Linked DNA regions of Homo sapiens. The protein of the gene in region 1 purifies or fractionates together with the protein of each later gene. This does not show direct contact. Each region holds a gene or a part of one and is shown in the gene's direction. Other genes may lie near its edges.

Evidence for each region. The genes of interacting proteins can lie anywhere in the genome.
Region 2: the proteins of PRMT8 (region 1) and SCAF11 purify together in Homo sapiens (affinity purification with mass spectrometry; 4 studies listed by BioGRID and IntAct, with this or other methods). This does not show direct contact.
Region 3: the proteins of PRMT8 (region 1) and ANGEL2 purify together in Homo sapiens (affinity purification with mass spectrometry; 4 studies listed by BioGRID and IntAct, with this or other methods). This does not show direct contact.
Region 4: the proteins of PRMT8 (region 1) and HNRNPR purify together in Homo sapiens (affinity purification with mass spectrometry; 3 studies listed by BioGRID and IntAct, with this or other methods). This does not show direct contact.

Annotation. Positions count from the first base shown.
Region 1 is NC_000012.12:3,538,582-3,543,889, forward strand, and holds part of PRMT8 (protein arginine N-methyltransferase 8), read left to right. Parts: intron 1-2,024; coding exon 2,025-2,210; intron 2,211-5,308. UniProt on the Homo sapiens protein: S-adenosyl-L-methionine-dependent and membrane-associated arginine methyltransferase that can both catalyze the formation of omega-N monomethylarginine (MMA) and asymmetrical dimethylarginine (aDMA) in proteins such as NIFK, myelin basic protein, histone H4, H2A and H2A/H2B dimer.
Region 2 is NC_000012.12:45,921,603-45,925,478, reverse strand, and holds part of SCAF11 (protein SCAF11), read left to right. Parts: intron 1-404; coding exon 405-751; intron 752-2,324; coding exon 2,325-2,543; intron 2,544-2,896; coding exon 2,897-3,016; intron 3,017-3,284; coding exon 3,285-3,431; 3' UTR 3,432-3,876. UniProt on the Homo sapiens protein: Plays a role in pre-mRNA alternative splicing by regulating spliceosome assembly.
Region 3 is NC_000001.11:212,995,368-212,999,771, reverse strand, and holds part of ANGEL2 (protein angel homolog 2), read left to right. Parts: intron 1-2,453; coding exon 2,454-2,617; intron 2,618-4,404.
Region 4 is NC_000001.11:23,334,285-23,338,688, reverse strand, and holds part of HNRNPR (heterogeneous nuclear ribonucleoprotein R), read left to right. Parts: intron 1-80; coding exon 81-199; intron 200-827; coding exon 828-935; intron 936-4,404. UniProt on the Homo sapiens protein: Component of ribonucleosomes, which are complexes of at least 20 other different heterogeneous nuclear ribonucleoproteins (hnRNP). hnRNP play an important role in processing of precursor mRNA in the nucleus.

The DNA of each region.
Region 1 (5,308 bases):
AGGCCCCTGTGACCTTGACCATGCACAATGCCCAGACCAGCTCCGACTTTTTCCTCTCCTTCACATATTTAAATGGAGTCGATATTGGGGTCAGCTTCATGCACGGAGCCTTCTTCAGCTTTAGAGGTGATTCTGCAGCCTGCACAGGAGTGTGCACTTGACACAGTCTATTTTTAGCCTCCCAGAGACCGTGACCAACATCCCAAGCTGAGAGTGGGCACACCTGCTGCATTCTAATGAGGCAGCCCCACTCGCCTTTGCCAGCCCGCCCGGGATCTCACCGACGTGAAATCTGATGTTGCTAAACTGGGAAGTCTGCTTATTTCCCAAGGGCGGTAGCCTAGGTACACTGGGAAGATGGGACCATCCCACTGCCCCCAGCTCACTCCCCTGCAGCCCTGGACACAGAACAGTCTTGGGACTGCGCGGAGTGATTCCACGGAGGGGTTGAAATAACTTGGCTTTCTTGATCTTGCTGTGTCCTAGGATTCCCCTGTTTCTCTTGCTAGAAAGGAGACAGTAAGTCTGAGCTGACCCAGCTCACAGACAAGAAAATCGAGACATAGAACAAGGACATGATGTATGTAATAATCATAAGCACTTACTATGTGCCAGCCTGTTCTAAAGTCTTTCCATATATCAACTCCTCCAAACTTTTGGACAAATTTTTCAGGTAGGTTTTATTATGATTTGTGTTCTATAGAGGAGGAAAAGCTGAGGCACAGTGATGACAAATTATTTCCCAAGGTCACACAGCCAACAAGCGCTGGGTTTCAGAGTCAGGCACTGTGGCTCCAGGGTTTGTACTTTCAGCCAGTTCGCTATCTGCCTCCTAGTATCTATTTTTAATTTTACTAGAGCCAGGATAGGACCCAGGAGCCTGGATTCCCAGCCCTAGAGGACTGACTACTAGATAATACTCCTTTTTTTATTTTTCTAGTTCAGCCCTGCTTTGAGGCCTTTACTGTGCCTTGTACATCTGGGTCTCCTGCACTCCAGGCAGAGGAGGTCTCCTGGCATAACTGCTTCTGTTGCAGTGTTTGAGCTTCTGGGCTCCAATTGCTGTCTCTGGGCTCCAGAAGCTCTGTGGACCCCCATCTCCTTCTCCCTGCTCCGCCTAGCCTGTGGAGGACCAGGGAGCAGACAGTGATGGGCAGCAGCAGTGGGTGTAGAGCTGGGCTGGGCCTCAGGATTGGGGCACCCAGAAATAGCAATAATTGGTTGTGTGGAGGCCATCAGTGTGGGTATCCACAGTGCTGAATTCAGGGTAGAACTGTGAATCAGAAACTAGGGGGCAAGACAACAGGTAGGAGACACCAGAACCTAAGACATCTGCATTTTGGGGGCCGTATCCTCTTCTAGCTTGATGCTGCCTGTTGAGTGGAGAGAAGCCCATGGGTTCACGTTCCTGAGGATGCAGGTGGGACTTCGTTTCCTCTAACAAACTCTTACTATATGCCTGGCCCTTTTCTAAGCACTTTGAAATACAAACTTGTCTAATCCTCAGGACAACTCTAGGAGGCAGGGACCATTTTATTCCCATTTTAGAGAAAAGGAAACTGAGGCACTGAGAAGTTCATAAGTTTGCCCAAAGTTGTATAGCTGGGAAATGGCAGAGCTGGGATTCAGCTCCGGAATCTACACTCTCAGGCACCATGCTGTGCTATGCATCTTTCCCTTTATTGAATGTTTCCTATTTGCCTTCAAAGGAAGATACTATTTTCCCCATTTCACAGATACAGAAACTGAGGCCTGCATTGCTCAGGTCACCTAGCTAATAAGAGCTGAAGGTGGGTGAAATCTAGGTGTGTGTGGCTCCTCGGTGGACTGCCATCTCTGGACAGATCACAGCCATGAGCCCAACTGCTGGGAGCTGGAAGGGCTCACCTACCTCCCTTTCAGGAAGGGCTGCTGTGGCTGCTTGAGGCCGGGCTCAGGGAGGGGGAAGGAAAGAGGACCGCAAGCCTCCGAGGGCGGGACCCCGTTGTCTCTCCTAACACCCGACCCCCTTCTCTTCCCCTCAGGTGAACAGCCCCCCCTCCCAGCCCCCCCAGCCCGTCGTCCCTGCTAAGCCCGTGCAATGCGTCCATCATGTGTCCACTCAACCCAGCTGCCCAGGACGGGGCAAGATGTCCAAGCTGCTGAACCCAGAGGAGATGACCTCGAGAGATTATTACTTCGACTCCTATGCCCACTTTGGGATCCACGAGGTAAAGTGTCCCGAGTGGGTGGCTAATGGGGCGAGGCTGACTCTGCTGTTCTGTTGTTTTCAGAGGCAGCATAGTGTGTTCAACTCCTTACCATGGTAAAGGGAGTGCTCCCAGTGTTCCTGAGTCCTCTGACCCTTTCTCCAATCCGGGGGGCCCCTCTGGGAGGGGGCCAGGCCAGGCCTGGAGCAGGGGAGCAGGTGAAAGTGTGTGTCTGTATACTCCACAGCCAGAGAGAGCACACAAGGTGCTTACGGTCCATTTGTTTTACATTCCAGCTCCCGTGTCTCTCCCCAGCCATAAACCCAGCTCATCCATTGTGGGCTGGATAGCGCTGGTCTTTGGACCAGGAGCTCAAATGCTGCAGTCAGAGTCCTGAGGCAGCAAGGACCTTTCAGAGGTCATGATGTGCATTCTTTTGACCAATGAGCACCTCCGGGGGAAGAGCTGCAGGAAGCTTTCTTGGGAGCTTGGCCCAGGTCTGACACCCTGATTGATTGTCTGGAAATTCTTATGTCTAAATGCCAGTTTACCCCATAGCAGGGAAGACTAATGTTGACTATGGAACAGAACAGAACCTCCTAACAAGAGGCATCCTGGCCATAGTGGGGGCCTAATGGTGCCCCTACTGTATATCTTTCATTATAATCTCCAGCACTCTCTCCAGCCACCCCAAATAAACAAGTAGGATTTACTGAGTGCTTGCTAAGTGACAGGCACAGTTCTAAGCACATTATACGTATCATTTCATTTAAACTCTATGAAGAAAATATGTCCGTGATCCTCTTACAGCATAAGAAAAAATTGAAAAAGGAACAAAAGTTTGCTTGCTGTGCAAATCGGTTTTCAAAACAAGTCTTGAAGATCTTCCTTCCACGTACTCACTGCTGTAAACTCTTCCTATGTGGAAATGATGACCCTGCCATTGCCGGAAGGGTGTTTAGTAATAATAGCCAGCTCTTTTGTTTGTTTGTTTCGTTTTAGTGCTTACTACGTGCTGGTGTTGTTCCAAGCATTTTATATTATTGGTTCATTTATTCTTCAGGTCAATCCTGCAAGGTTGGTGTTATTGCTTGTCCCCATTCTCCAGATGATTTAGGCCCTTAAGAATCAAATCAACCCTCATTCATCCTTGACGGTTTTTTTGTGTGCGTGTGTGCGTGTGTGAAAGGCCACAAGCTAGTAGATGGCACAGCTAGCAATCAAACCTTCACCTTTTGTTCCTAACCATCATGCCATACAGCCCTTAAAACAAGTTTCCTTTCTTTCCATCTGGAAACTGTAAAAATTAAATTGCCATATTTGTTCCTGCTGGTTCTTCTGCAGCCCTACATGGAGGTAGAGGGTGGAAGGAGGCCCCCCAGTTACTTCTAGACTCAGGGGCTCAGCCTCATTTAATCCAGGGAGGCTCAAGGTTTGGGTCCCTGAGAACTGTTCACCATGTAAAACCATTAAGCCTGGACCTGCAGGGGAGGAGGACTGGGGCCTGTGTTCGGTCCAGAAGGTCCTGGCCCAGGAGGGCCTGGACAGCTGAGCCTGCAGCTTCTGGGAGATAAAATGCCATCTCAGGGCAGATGGATGAACTCTTACCCCTTCCTTGACCCTGCTCTCCACTGGGCTAGGGATTCCTGGAGCCCCATCCTTGGCCTGTGAGAGGCTCTTGGGGGCAAAAGAGACTCTGCGAAGGCCCCTTCCTCAAGACCTTGTCCCTAATTAAAAGTCATGTTCTCCATGTGACAAGTTCTAACAGGCCTGTGGCTCTGGGTACCCATTTCAGGACAGATTCTTGGGAAAAGAGAGCAGTTCCAGGGACCCCAAAATGTCTCCTCTTGGGCCTGCCCAGAACTCCCCCATTAGAAACCAAACAACCATGAGGTGCACCTCAAGCTGGGTCTGCAGTCTCCCCTCCCCACTCGGAGCCTCCGTGATCGGCTTCTTGGACACCTCCCTCTGAGTTGCTAGGTTCCTGCTGAGCCACACCTTTGGCGTTTAGAGTGTGCTCCACTAGGCTATTACCGATCTCTATAATTCCTTTGGGACTTGGTGTCCCCAGCCTGTTACCTACAGCTTGGCACATTGTCTGGAGAGCAAAGGCTTGTTGACATGGCTGCTAATCCAGTCATTCAGGCGATGCCTGGTCAGCACCATGACCCAGCACCCAGGGGAGAGGACATCAAGTTTCACCAAATAAATACTAGACCAGTTTCCCTCAATTGTGTGTACTTATGGAAAAGTCAAGCTTGTGCATACGTATATATAAACATAGTGCGGGCTGAGCAGGGGACTTAGAGTATAAGACCTGTGAGTCATAGATCACATTCCTGTCCTGGGAGAGTGCTTAGCAGCCTTCCCATTGGGAAATACTTCTGGACATCTAGCTTAAATCCCTCCTGCTGCTGCTATAGACCATCTCATAGGTCCTTTAATGCAGGAACAGCTAGGTAACCTTCCTTCCCCCCGAGGTCTCCTTTTACCCTGTTTTCAGTTTCCCAGATCATCTGCATGAAAGGAGGTGGGGGGCACGTGGAAGAACTTTTAACACCATTCTTCGCAGAGAGAAGGCCTACCCAGTTCTTGTTATCAAGCACCAGGGATCTCTGTTCCATGCCAGATGGATCGTGGTGATGCCCTTGCCTCCTTGGTCTGGGCAAGACCCATATTTCTGCATCCATCTGGAGCCACGCTGGCCATTTGGCAGTCTTCTCCCCATCATTAACAAGACCCTCACACGGTGGGGAGCAGCCCCACCGGCCTGCTGATTAATAGCCATCAGTGAGTGTTGAGGAAACGTGGTGCGGATAGACTGGGTTTGATTGATCTGTAAATACAAACAAGAAATGCTGAGTACAGGGGACTATTGGGGCTGGAGAGCACAGCAGGGGGTGACTCTGGACACTTCTGTTCTCATCCCATGCTCCATTCAGAGACAACTCTATCCCCAGCCTCCAGAGGGCAGGGGCTAGCGAGAGGAAGACCCTAGCCTTCCAATTTAGGCCTCTCTGGGAAACATGGAATCTTGAACAGGAGCTGAAGTGGAAGATGTGTGCTTCCTGAGGCCGCCACCTAGAGAGGAGGTGGTAGGCTCCATGACCTCCCAGACC
Region 2 (3,876 bases), about 42 Mb from region 1:
CTCCTGGGTTCAAGCAATTCTCCAGCCTCCTGACTAGCTGGGATTACAGGCGCTCACCACCACGCCTGGCTAATTTTTGTATTTTTTTAGTAGAGACGGGGTTTCACCATGTTGGCCAGGCTGCTCTCGAACACCTGACCTCAGGTGATCTGCCCGCCTTGGCCTCCCAAAGTGCTGGGATTACAGGCTTGAGCCACCGTGCCTCGCCAAATGTTTTCTTTCATTAGAAAGTCAGTCCACATTATTTAGAAATGACAGGATTAAATTAAGCAATTGGAGATTGGTATTGGTATACTGAGCCTATTAATTGCTATTTAATTTTACTGTAACCAGTGGTTCTTTGTTTCTCTGTCTAAAGAGATTTATAACATGATTTTTTTCACAAGCTTTTTTTCTTTTGATAGATTCTAGCCTAAAAGACCAAACAAACCAGCAAGTTGATGGTTCTCAGCTACCTATAAATATGATGCAACCGCAAATGAATGTAATGCAGCAACAAATGAATGCACAACACCAGCCTATGAATATCTTCCCATATCCAGTGGGTGTTCATGCTCCTTTGATGAACATCCAACGCAATCCATTTAACATTCATCCTCAGCTACCCTTGCATCTCCACACAGGAGTGCCCCTCATGCAGGTAGCCACTCCTACCAGTGTATCTCAGGGACTACCACCACCACCACCCCCTCCCCCACCATCCCAACAAGTCAACTACATTGCTTCACAACCAGATGGAAAGCAATTGCAGGTATGTTTTTAGCAACTCAAGTTTAATCAATATAGCCATTGTAAACATTTAGCTGTTCATGACAGATGTTCAAAAAAAGGCATCCTGGCATTCAAAAACAATTGTTTATTTGATTTCAGTTATGGTAAACCTTCATAATCCCTCTTTCACTATCCTTCTCAAAACCCCCCAACTCCCAAATTAGAAAATTAATTAAATACTTATTACCAAATCCAAGCTACATATATGCTGTTACTTATATCTGAACAGGATTTTTTTATTCATATTAAGTAAACCAAATTATAAGCCAAATTAGAATCGAGTGGTGGGTGCTTTACATTTTTCCCCTGTTTTGCACTGTTTAGGGGGTATATGGGGACGGTGGGAACTAGTGATTAAGTACTGTGATGAAGCTTTTATTGTCTTGTTCAGACAAACACTGGATAAAGCTGTTTATTATCCATTACCATCTGTGTTTCATTTTCATGAATTTATCATGCTAAAAAGAAAGGAGAAGTGCCTCTGTGAGACATAGAAAATTTGAATAATTTGCAAACAATTTGTTGCTTATAATTTTATGACTGCCTTTTAAAAATTTTAGAATCCTAGGCCGGGCATGGTGGCTCACGCCTGTTATCCCAGCACCTTGTGAGGCCCAGGTGGGTGAATCACGAGGTCAGGATCAGCCTGGCCAACATGGTGAAACCCTGCCTCTACTAAAAATACAAAAATTAGCCGGGTGTGGTGGCAAGCGCCTGTAATCCCAGCTACTAAGGAGGTTGAGGCAGGAGAATTGCTTGAACCCAGGAGGCGGAGGTTGCAGTGAGCCGAGATTGCACCACTGCACTCCAGCCTGGGTGACAGAGCAAGACTCTGTCTAGAAAAAAAAAAATACAAAAATTAGCCAGGCGCGGTGATGCATTCCTGTAATCCCAGCTACTCGGAGGCTGAGGCTCAAGAATCACTTGAACCTGGTAGTCGGAGATTGCAGTGAGCCAAGATCGCGCCACTGCACTCCAGCCTGGGAGACAGAGTGAGACTTCGTCTCTAAATAAATAAATAATTAATTAAAATAAAATAAAATAAATAGAATCCTGACAGTAAGATAGAGTTGAAGGAATAGGGAAATTGGATTTTAGTATTTGGGATCTTAATCTTTTTCTCCTGTCAACTTACTGCAAGCCTTTTTTCTCCTGTCAACTTACTACAAGCCATTTGACTTTACTGCCTTATTTTTTCCAGGCTTTAAAGTGAGGGCACTTTAATATTTGTTAATATTCCTAAAGATCCTTGCAGGAAAGATATAATTCTTTAAATGCTATTCTCCTCCTTGTGTTTAGTATTGCTGTCAAAATGTTACAATACATATATATAATTTAAAAGTCATCTTGACATATCTAAATAAGGCCCCGTTTAAGAATGTTACTCATTTTTCTTTAAAGGGCCCTTTAGATATAATTACCTGAAATATGCATTTTTCTTTAGTACTAAGGTTGGTTTGCTTTGTGTTTTTTAATGTTATTTCTAATGCATCACTAAAAGACTTCTATCGAGTACAAGTAATTCATTAACTGATGATAACTCTTTAAAACAGGGTATTCCTAGTTCTTCTCATGTAAGTAATAACATGAGTACACCAGTTTTGCCTGCTCCGACAGCAGCCCCAGGAAATACGGGAATGGTTCAGGGACCAAGTTCTGGTAATACTTCGTCATCAAGTCACAGCAAAGCCTCTAATGCTGCTGTAAAATTGGCAGAAAGCAAAGTAAGTGTTGCAGTGGAAGCCAGCGCAGATAGCTCGAAGACAGACAAGGCAAGTTCAAGGTTGAGAGCAACCTTCATAATTCTGTATATGATAAAGGAGAAAAAATATCAGCTTTTTATTGTATGAGTGGTGAAGGGAATTTCTTATTGGCTGTCTAAATGCCATTATTATTTGAAGGATTCTCTCTAGATGTGTTGATGTCCAGTAAATTACTGGTAATATTTTATAATTGTTTTTAGAAATGTTTGATATGTTTTAGTAAATAAACTGTTTTATATTTGTCACGTTAATAGTTGGAGAGTCTCTTATTGTAAATATGAAGTATTTTCAATTTCTTGTTTGGGATTTTGTGAGAGCAGTATGACTGGCAAATAATAAATTATACATTTTCTTCTCATCAGAAATTGCAAATTCAAGAAAAAGCAGCACAAGAGGTAAAATTGGCCATCAAGCCATTTTACCAAAATAAAGATATCACCAAGGAAGAATATAAAGAAATTGTACGGAAAGCAGTAGATAAAGTAAGTTATGGCTTTAGTGGAGTATGTGCACGTTGTTTTGAACCACCTCTGTTTTAATAAATGAATGCTGAAGTTTAATTAAAATAATAAAAGCTAGCTCCTACTAATTCCTGTCTACTTTTTTGCCTTTTGATTAGTTTGTGTGAGATAATGAAACATGAAAATAAGTCTGGTTATCTCTTTGGGGTTGTTTTTCACAAAGCTTTCTATTTTGGCTTTAATCCCTTTAAGCATGAAAAAAGTTTACCCCCCACCCCTTTTTTCTTAGGTTTGTCATAGTAAGAGTGGAGAAGTAAATTCTACTAAAGTGGCAAATCTGGTTAAAGCCTATGTAGACAAATACAAATATTCACGGAAGGGGAGCCAAAAGAAAACTCTGGAAGAACCTGTGTCTACTGAAAAAAACATAGGCTGAAATGGGGAACGCTGTCAAGGACATTATCAGGATATCTGCAAAGTGCAATTTCAACATGTACCATTAACTGAAAATCATACATAACTGTGATTGAAATTTGGTTTTGATAAAATTATTTTTTTAACATAGGATATGATGTTTTGTTCTAAATAAATATAGGTCTGCACTGCAACTTCTGTATCCTTCCTTCCCCTCCACCCTCCCCCACAAAATTCAAGGGAAAGTAAAGGGTTTAAAGGAATGTGCATCTTTACTAGGACTGTGTTATAGTGTGGATACTGGAAAATGTATAGCTTTTTGATTAGGGCAATGGAGTGCATAAATTAGAAACTTCTAAGTGCACTGGTTTTCAAAGAGATATATATAATGCATTTATTCTGTCAGGTTAAAATGTAAAGTATGATCTTTATGATTTTTTCCCTCTAATTATAGAAAGTTAAATAAT
Region 3 (4,404 bases), on another chromosome or scaffold:
GGGGTGAAGATGCTGGAATTCTTCATTAAAGAAATAGGAATATTTGGGGCTATGGTTGAGAAATTGATACATGTTAATAAAACAGGACAGAGACTTAAATCTTGTCTCAGGGAGATTCTTGAAATATCTTGATTGTTAATTATATTGTGGCTGTTTTATAGTTTTTTGTTTTAACATTTAAATTTAGGGACCAATTCTCATTTATTTTATCTGCTTCTCAATCTTTATTTTGTATACCTTGTTTTGAGAAAATATTACTACATAAATAAGAACTAGTAAGAATGGAAGCAATTTTTAAAAAAATTTTTTAAATGAATATTTTAAAATTCATGATTAAACCTTTCAATATAGTAAAAACTTCTTTGAATAAGATTAATAAGGAGGCTAATCTAACAAGTACTTCGTTTTGAGTAACTCTTAAATCTTTTTGTAACAATATAGGATATAAAAAAGATATTGGCTGGGCGTGTTGGCTCACGCCTATAATCTCAGCACTTTGGGAGGCCAGGGCGGGAGGATTGCTTGAGCCCAGGAGTTTGAAACCAGCCTGGGCAACACAGTGAGACCCTGCCTCTATTAAAAAAAAAATTAAAACATTCTGGCCGGGCGTGGTGGCTCGTGCCTGTAATCTCGGCACTTTGGGAGGCTGAGGTGGGTGGATCACGAGGTCAGGAGTTCAAGAGCAGTCTGGCCAAGATGGTGAAACCCCATCTTTACTAAAAATACAAAAAATTAGCCGGGCATGGTGGCATGCACGTGTAATCCCAGGTAGGCTGAGGCAGAGTATTGCTTGAACCCTGGGGGGCAGAGGTTGCAGTGAGCCGAGATCGCACCACCGCATTCCAGCCTGGGTGACAAAGCAAGCCTCCGTCTCAATAATGATAATAATTTTAAAAAATAGATACCTTACTTGCCCTTGGTGTCTAAAAATTAAAAGAAAAAAAGAGGCCGGGCGCGGTGGCTCACGCCTGTAATCCCAGCACTTTAGGAGGCTGAGGCGGGCGGATCATGAGGTCAGGAGATTGAGACCATCCTGGCTAACACGGTGAAACCGCGTCTCTACTAAAGATACAAAAAAAAAAATTAGCTAGGTGTGGTGGTGGGCGCCTGTAGTCCCAGCTACTCGGGAGGCTGAGGCAGGAGAATGGTGTGAACCTGGGAGGTGGAGGTTGCAGTGAGCTGAGATCATGCCACTGCACTCCAGCCTGGGCGACAGAGCAAGACTCTGTCTCAAAAAAAAAAAAAAAAAAAGATACTTTTTTGTATCTTTATGTAAATACAGAGTGTTTATATGCATAGCTTATATCTGTAAACTGAAAAATTGATAGATAAGAGTTTGCAGAAGACCTATTTTTATTTATTATTTTTATTTGAGAGTTGATCTCACTGTCATCCAGGCTAGAGTGCAGTGGCATGATCTTGGCTCACTGCAGCCTCCACCTCCCAGGCTCAAGCCTTTCTCCTACCTTAGTCTGCCAAGTAGCTGAGACCACAGGCATGTGCCTCCACGCGTAGCTACTTTTCTAGATTTTTTTTTTTTTTTTGTAGAGATGAGGTCTCACTGTGTTGCCCAGGCTGGTCTCGAGCTCCTGAGCTCAAGCAATCTTCCCGCCTTGGCTTCCCAAAGTGCTGGGATTACAGGTGTGAGCCACCGCGTCCGGCCCTATTTTATGTTTAATATTATAAATCCTTAGACATAAAAAGTTGCTAATAAAACTTAGAGGGCATTTTTAAGGATTTACCTTTGTTCCTGACATATGAACACTTTAAAAGCAAGGGAAACATCTTCATCTATGTATTCTCAGCACCTGACATATTGCCTAGAACTTAGAAGATGTTTGGTAAATGTTTGTTGGATAAGTTTCTTTTTTAATTTTATTTTCCTTCAAGGCATAAAAGATCCTTAAGATTCATAAAGTATCACTAGAAAATAGTCTTTAAACCTTTTACTCATAACATCACATATATTTGTGCATGGGGCAAATATAATAAACCATTAGAGAAGCTGTTTTAAGATGCAGTACAAAATTATATGTGATAGCAAGAAAAATTAGAGAAGAATATGGCCTCTCTGTCATCAAAAGTCTAGAGGATTCCAAATAGTGTTCCTGAAGACCCCCTTGATTCTCTTTCTTAAAAACACAATAAAACTTGTTAGAATACATGTTCTTTAGTAAGTGGAGGCATTCACACGTTATAAATAATGAAAAAACACATTAGTATGTTAATTATTGAGCTTTTTTTAAAAACCACATTTATAATGGCTTTATTGATGGGTTTTAGATATCACTGCATAAGTAAATTAATACTAAATTATGATATGGTCTTTTTAAATAAAGCTTGTCCTAATGTTTGGTCTTAGTCTAGAAATTAAGTGAAAAAGAAATTCAGATAGGAGGAATTCTTGAAGTTACAAAAACTCGGATTCTAAACACTTCTTCTTTTCTATTTAGATTGTCTTCAAATTTACAGCACCATTTCAGTTTGTCATCTGTTTATTCACATTACTTTCCTGACACTGGAATTCCAGAAGTGACCACCTGTCATTCCCGAAGTGCCATAACTGTGGATTATATTTTCTACTCTGCAGAAAAGGAAGATGTTGCTGGGCACCCAGGTAAGGAATGCATGTAATCTTAAATTCTCCTAGAGAGCACAGTAGCTAAAACCTCAAGGTTAAAGTTAAGAAAGCTCTCTAAACATCCAGTTGAAGTTCTAGATCTAGAAGGTAAAAATATTTCGAAATAGACAGATTGGTAATATATTTGAATAAATCAGTTGATTACTTGCATATGAGGGAGGCAATAAAACACATCCAAGCAAATTATTACCCAAGAATTACATTAGCAGTCCTACCCTCCAGTTCCAGTCAGCCTCTGAGTTATAGGTCTTTCATATTGCCCTTTCTTTTTGCTTGCCATAAATTTACTGTTTTTCCTGTGACAGGAACTGAGTATGTTGTTAATGGTCATCATAGTTTTGTGCTTAAATTTTACCGAGGCGTCCTGCCTTCATTGGAGGACCATAGTTACACTGCCAGCAACACAGCTTATGCTGTCATGTTGACTCTGGAATATTGGATTTTTCTGAGGAGGAAAAGTATATATATATATATATATATATATATATATTTTTTTTTTTTTTTTTTGGATACAGAGTCTCGCTCTGTTACCCAGGCTAGAGTGCAGTGGCATGATTCTCGGCTTACTGCAACCTCTGTCTCCCGGGTTCAAGTGACCTTCCCACCTCAGCTTCCCGAGTAGCTAAGACTACAGGCATGAGCCACCATGCCCACCTAATTTTTGTATTTTTTGTAGAGACAGGGTTTCACCGTGTTGCCCAGGCTGGTCTCAAACTCCTGGGCTCAAGCCGTCCACCTCGGCCTCCCAGGGTGGCTTGGATTACAGGCATGAGCCACCACATTCGGTCAGAAAAGTCTATATAATTTTTTTGTTTGTTTGTTTTTGAGACGGAGTCTCGCTCGTCGCCCAGGCTGGAGTGCAGTGGCGCTATCTCAGCTCACTGCAAGCTCCGCCTCCCAGGTTCACACCATTCTCCTGCCTCAGCCTCCCGAGCCACTGGGACTACAGGCGCCCGCCACCATGCCCGGCTAATTTTTTGTATTTTTAGTAGAGACGGGATTTCACCGTGTTGGCCAGGATGGTCTCGATCTCCTGACCTCATGATCTGCCTGCCTCGGCCTCCCAAAGTGCTGGGATTACAGGCGTGAGCCACTGTGCCCGGCCGAAAATCAGGTTTTAAACATTAGCCAAAGGATTTAAAGTGGAGAAGAAAATGCAGTTTAAGATTACTGGAAGTACAAAAATACCTTTAAGAAAACTTTGGAATGTGAGCAGCTGTTTTATTCTTTTCTGATTTTTTTCATTTTTTTCTCTTCCATTTTTTTGGATGCTTCTTTTTCTTTACCCTTTTCCCCTCTGTTTGTTCCCCCCTCCTTTCTTCTGGGAATAACCTTATTAGTAACACTCACGAGATGACTTATTCCTGCCACTAGATCTACTCTACAAAAAATATGCCTGCTGCTTTGAATTTATAGTAAGGTTTTCGTAGTTGTCATGCTGACAGAAGTTCACTTGGTGGCAGGAGAGTGTTATGGATCAGCATTTCAAAAAGAGCATGTCATCTTCACTTCTGTGGGTGCTGACTATCTGGGACTAAATTATACTAATTTATTCTCCATTCACCTTATAAACTGCTACAGGGCTGTGGCCCGGTGTCTCTGGCTTTATGCAACTACAGAATGGTTGCTGGATGAGTTTCTTATGTAGTTGTCAACCACAAATTACCCTTAACATTCTTAAGTATTTCATTTATATTTTCTTCTAAAGATTGTTTACAGAGCTGGAAATAGAAAAAATATCTCAAACTGCTGTGTGTTTGATA
Region 4 (4,404 bases), on another chromosome or scaffold:
CAATTCTTGATTAAACGTCAGTAGAGCTTAGATTACCCCTTTTGTTGCAATAACGTTACCCCTTTCAATTTAATTTTTAGGATTGGTAGCTTATGTCGATCTTGATGAAAGAGCAATTGATGCTCTCAGGGAATTTAATGAAGAAGGAGCTCTGTCTGTACTACAGCAGTTCAAGGAAAGTGACTTATCACATGTTCAGGTAAGGTCGTTACTCAGAAATGTCTTTGAACAATTAGTAATCTGAAATTATTTTACTATTACTTTTTTTCCTATGGAGAAGTGGTATTTTTTGTTTGTGACTACCTCTTCTTTTAAAAAATTAGTTTAAAGGAAAAAAACTGCTTGTGGCAGAGTTTCAGAAGCCCAAGTATAAAGCAAAAGTTTTCTCCCACCCCCTTGTGCAGTAAGTTATTTTAAAAACTTAAAATTAAAGCCAAGTTTTGATGGTTGTTACTATAGGTTTTTACATGTTACTCAGCTTTTTAACATTTGGGGGTTATTTGATCCTGTTTTATTATCTTGGAGGAAAATGTAGGTGGGAGGAATAGTTTCCGACATCTGGCAAAGACAGTCTAGATACAGTCACATATCAACAAGTGGAAGACTGTGTTTTCCCAGGGTAGAAGGTAAGCTCCCTGAGGTCTATACTGCCTTACTGCTGTCTGCTCCAATCTCTGGCACATAGTAACCACTCGGCAAATACTTGTTGAATGAATCAGTAAATCTTTTGTTAAAATCCTGGTTTTCTGAAATTTAAATTTAATTATGTATCTGACCCTTCAGATATTTTTGGTGATTCTTTTTATTGAATTACTTGTCTGTTCTAGAACAAAAGTGCATTTTTATGTGGAGTTATGAAGACCTACAGGCAGAGAGAGAAACAGGGGAGCAAGGTGCAAGAGTCCACAAAGGGACCTGATGAAGCGAAGATCAAGGTAAAACTTGACTTGGGTAGTTGTAATGAAATTGCATTTAATGATGAGGTCAAATGCCTCTTTCCATGTTTCCTAGAAAGTTTCACTTTTTTTTTTTTTGAGACGGAGTCTTGCTCTGTCGCCCAGGCTGGAGTAGCGGCGCAGTCTTGGATCACTGCAAGCTCCACCTCCCAAGTTCATGCCATTCTCCTGCCTCAGCCTCCCAAGTAGCTGGGATTACAGCCATGCACCACCACACCCAGCTAATTATTTGTATTTTTAGGAAAGATAGGGTTTCACTGTGTTGGCCAGATTGGTCTCGATCTCCTGACCTTGTGATCCGCCCACCTCGGCCTTCAAAGTGCTGGGATTACAGACGTGAGCCACCACGCCCAGCTGAAAGTTTCACTTTTCAAAACTAGTGTTTAGAAATGAAATAATTTAGAGGAATTACATAAGAAGGATAATTTTGGGGATCGACACTCAATTGCATGTTTAATGAAAAGCCCTAATTCATACTCTTCCTCATTCCCTCTTTTGTGGCCATGAATGACGTATATTTATTGATGCTTCGCTGGTAGTTTCTTGGATTGATCCAGTAATGTCTCTTGGTTCAGTTATTTTCCAGCCACTTTGTTTCTTTTCTCTTGATAAAAAGGTTATAACTTGATAAAAAGTTGTTATAACTGCTTTCCTCCTTTTGAATATTCAGTTACCTCAGTTTCTTTATTTATAAAATGGGGATAGTAATAGTGACTACCTTACAGAGTTATTGTAAGGAGTAAATGAATTAACATATATAAAGCACTTAGAATAATGCCTGGAATGTAGCAAGAACTATATAACCATGAACCATTATTATTATTACCATTTTATTACTTAGATAAACAGCTTTGAAAAGGTAAATATACAGCTTTTAATGAAAGACCAGTGAACCTAATTCCTTAGTTAAATGGATACTCGTGTCTTGCTGTAGTGACATACTTTTCTTTTTTTTTTTTTTTTTTGAGACAGAGTCTCACTCTGTGGCCCAGGCTGGAGTGCTGGAGTGCAGTAGCGCCATCTCAGCTCATCTCAGCTCACTTCAACCTCTGTCTCCTGGGTTCAAGCGATTCTCCTGCCTCAGCCTCCTGAGTAGCTGGGACTACAGGCGTGCGCCACCACATCCAGCTAATTTTTTTTTTTTTTTTTTTTTTTTTTTTTGAGACGGAGTCTCCCTCTGTCGCCCAGGCTGGAGTGCAGTGGCGCGATCTCAGCTCATTGCAAGGTCTGCCTCCTGGGTTCACGCCATTCTCCTGCCTCAGCCTCCTGAGCAGCTGGGACCACAGGTGCCTGCTACCATGCCCGGCTAATTTTTTTTTTCTTGTATTTTTAGTAGAGACAGGGTTTCACTATGTTAGCCAGGATGGTCTCAATCTCCTGACCTCATGATCCGCCCGCCTCGGCCTCCCAAAGTGCTGGGATTACAGGCGTGAGCCACCGTGCCTGGCTGCTAATTTTTTTTGTTTTTTGGTAGAGTCGGGGTTTCACTGTGTTAGCCAGGCTGGTCTCAAACTCCTGACCTTGGGGGATCTGCCTACCTCACCCTCCCCAAAGTGCTGGGATTACAGGTGTGAGCCACCATATCCGGCCTGTGATAGACTTTTTTTTTTTTTTTTGAGACGGAGTCTCGCTCTGTCGCCCAGGCTGGAGTGCAGTGGCGGGATCTCGGCTCACTGCAAGCTCCGCCTCCCGGGTTCACGCCATTCTCCTCCCTCAGCCTCCCGAGTAGCTGGGACTACAGGCGCCCGCCACTACGCCCGGCTAATTTTTTGTATTTTTAGTAGAGACGGGGTTTCACCATTTTAGCCGGGATGGTCTCGATCTCCTGACCTCGTGATCCGCCCGCCTCAGCCTCCCAAAGTGCTGGGATTACAGGCGTGAGCCACCGCGCCCGGCTGTGATAGACTTTTTAATTAGAAATAGTTATTGTATGTTGAAGTTATTTCTATTATTATTACATTGTAATATGTAATGAAATAATTATACAACTCACCATAATGTAGAATCAGTGGGATCCCTGAGCTTGTTTTCCTGCAACTAGATGGTGCCATCTGGGCATACTGGTAGATGGTGACAGATCTTCAAGCATTAGATTCTCATAAGGAGCATGCAACCTAGATCCCTTGTATGCACACTTCACAATAGGATTCACCCTCCTGTGAGAACCTAATGCGGCTGCTGATCTGACAGGAGGTGGAGCTCACAGCTCAGGCAGTAATGCCAATGATAGGGAGGATGAGGAGCGGCTGTAAATACAGATGAAGCTTTGTTCTCACTTGCCCGCTATTTACCTCCTGCTATGCAGCCCGGTTCCTAACAGGCCATGGACCAGTACGGGTCTGTGGCCCAGGGGTGTGGGGACCCCTGTTTTATATTACATTTATGGCTCTGTTTCAGTCAAAGGTAGAAGAATGGAAGGCCGAAGGCATGCATCCCTGTGAAATCCTAGTGTTCACTGAACTTGATGATATCTAAAGTCTCTTATTGTTCTGACATTGTGTAATTTTAAAAACCTGGCTGGGCTCTGTGGCTCACGCCTGTAATCCCAGCACTTTGGGAGGCTGAGGCGGGTGGATCACGAGGTCAGGAGATCGAGACCATCCTGGCTAACAACGGTGAGGCCACCTGTCTACTAAAAATACAAAAAATTAGCCGGGTGTGGTGGCAGGCGCCTGTAGTCCCAGCTACTTGGGAGGCTGAGGCAGGAGAATGGCGTGAACCCGGGAGGCGGAGCTTGCAGTGAGCCAAGATCGCGCCACTGCACTCCAGCCTGAGCGACAGAGCGAGACTCCGTCTCAAAAAAAAAAAACCAAAAAAACTGAAGTGTAAATTTCTCTTTTCTAGGTAGATTGTGTTTCTTTGTTTACCATTGTATCTTTTCTTCTCTAAGCTCTTTATATAGATGTTGCCTCAATTATAACATAAATTCCTGAGAGCAAGGAGATTATCTTCTTTTCTATGATTGCTCTTAATACCTAATAGAATGTAAGGAAGGTTGGTAATCAGGAAACACAAGATTTTACTTATTTTTCGGAACCTGACTATACTTATTTGGTAATTGCCAAATATTTTTAGTCTGTACTGTATGATTCTTGTCTGATTACCTGATTCTTGTGGAGCTTATGATATGGCAGGAGTACAAACCAGAAGGATCAAACAAAATCAAGCTTAAATGATGGAACTTTAAGTACACTAGAGGCTGGGTATGGTGGCTCATTCCTGTAATCCCAGCACTTTGGGAGGCCAAGTCGGGTGGATCACGAGATCAGGAGATTGAGACCATCCTGGCTAACACGGTGAAACCCTGTCTTTACTAAAAATACAAAAAATTAGCCGGGCGTTGTGGCGGGTGCCTGTAGTCCCAGCTGCTCGGGAGGCTGAGGCAGGAAAAGGGCGTGAACCTGGGAGGCGGAGCTTGCAGTGAGCCGAGATCGCGCTACTGCACTCC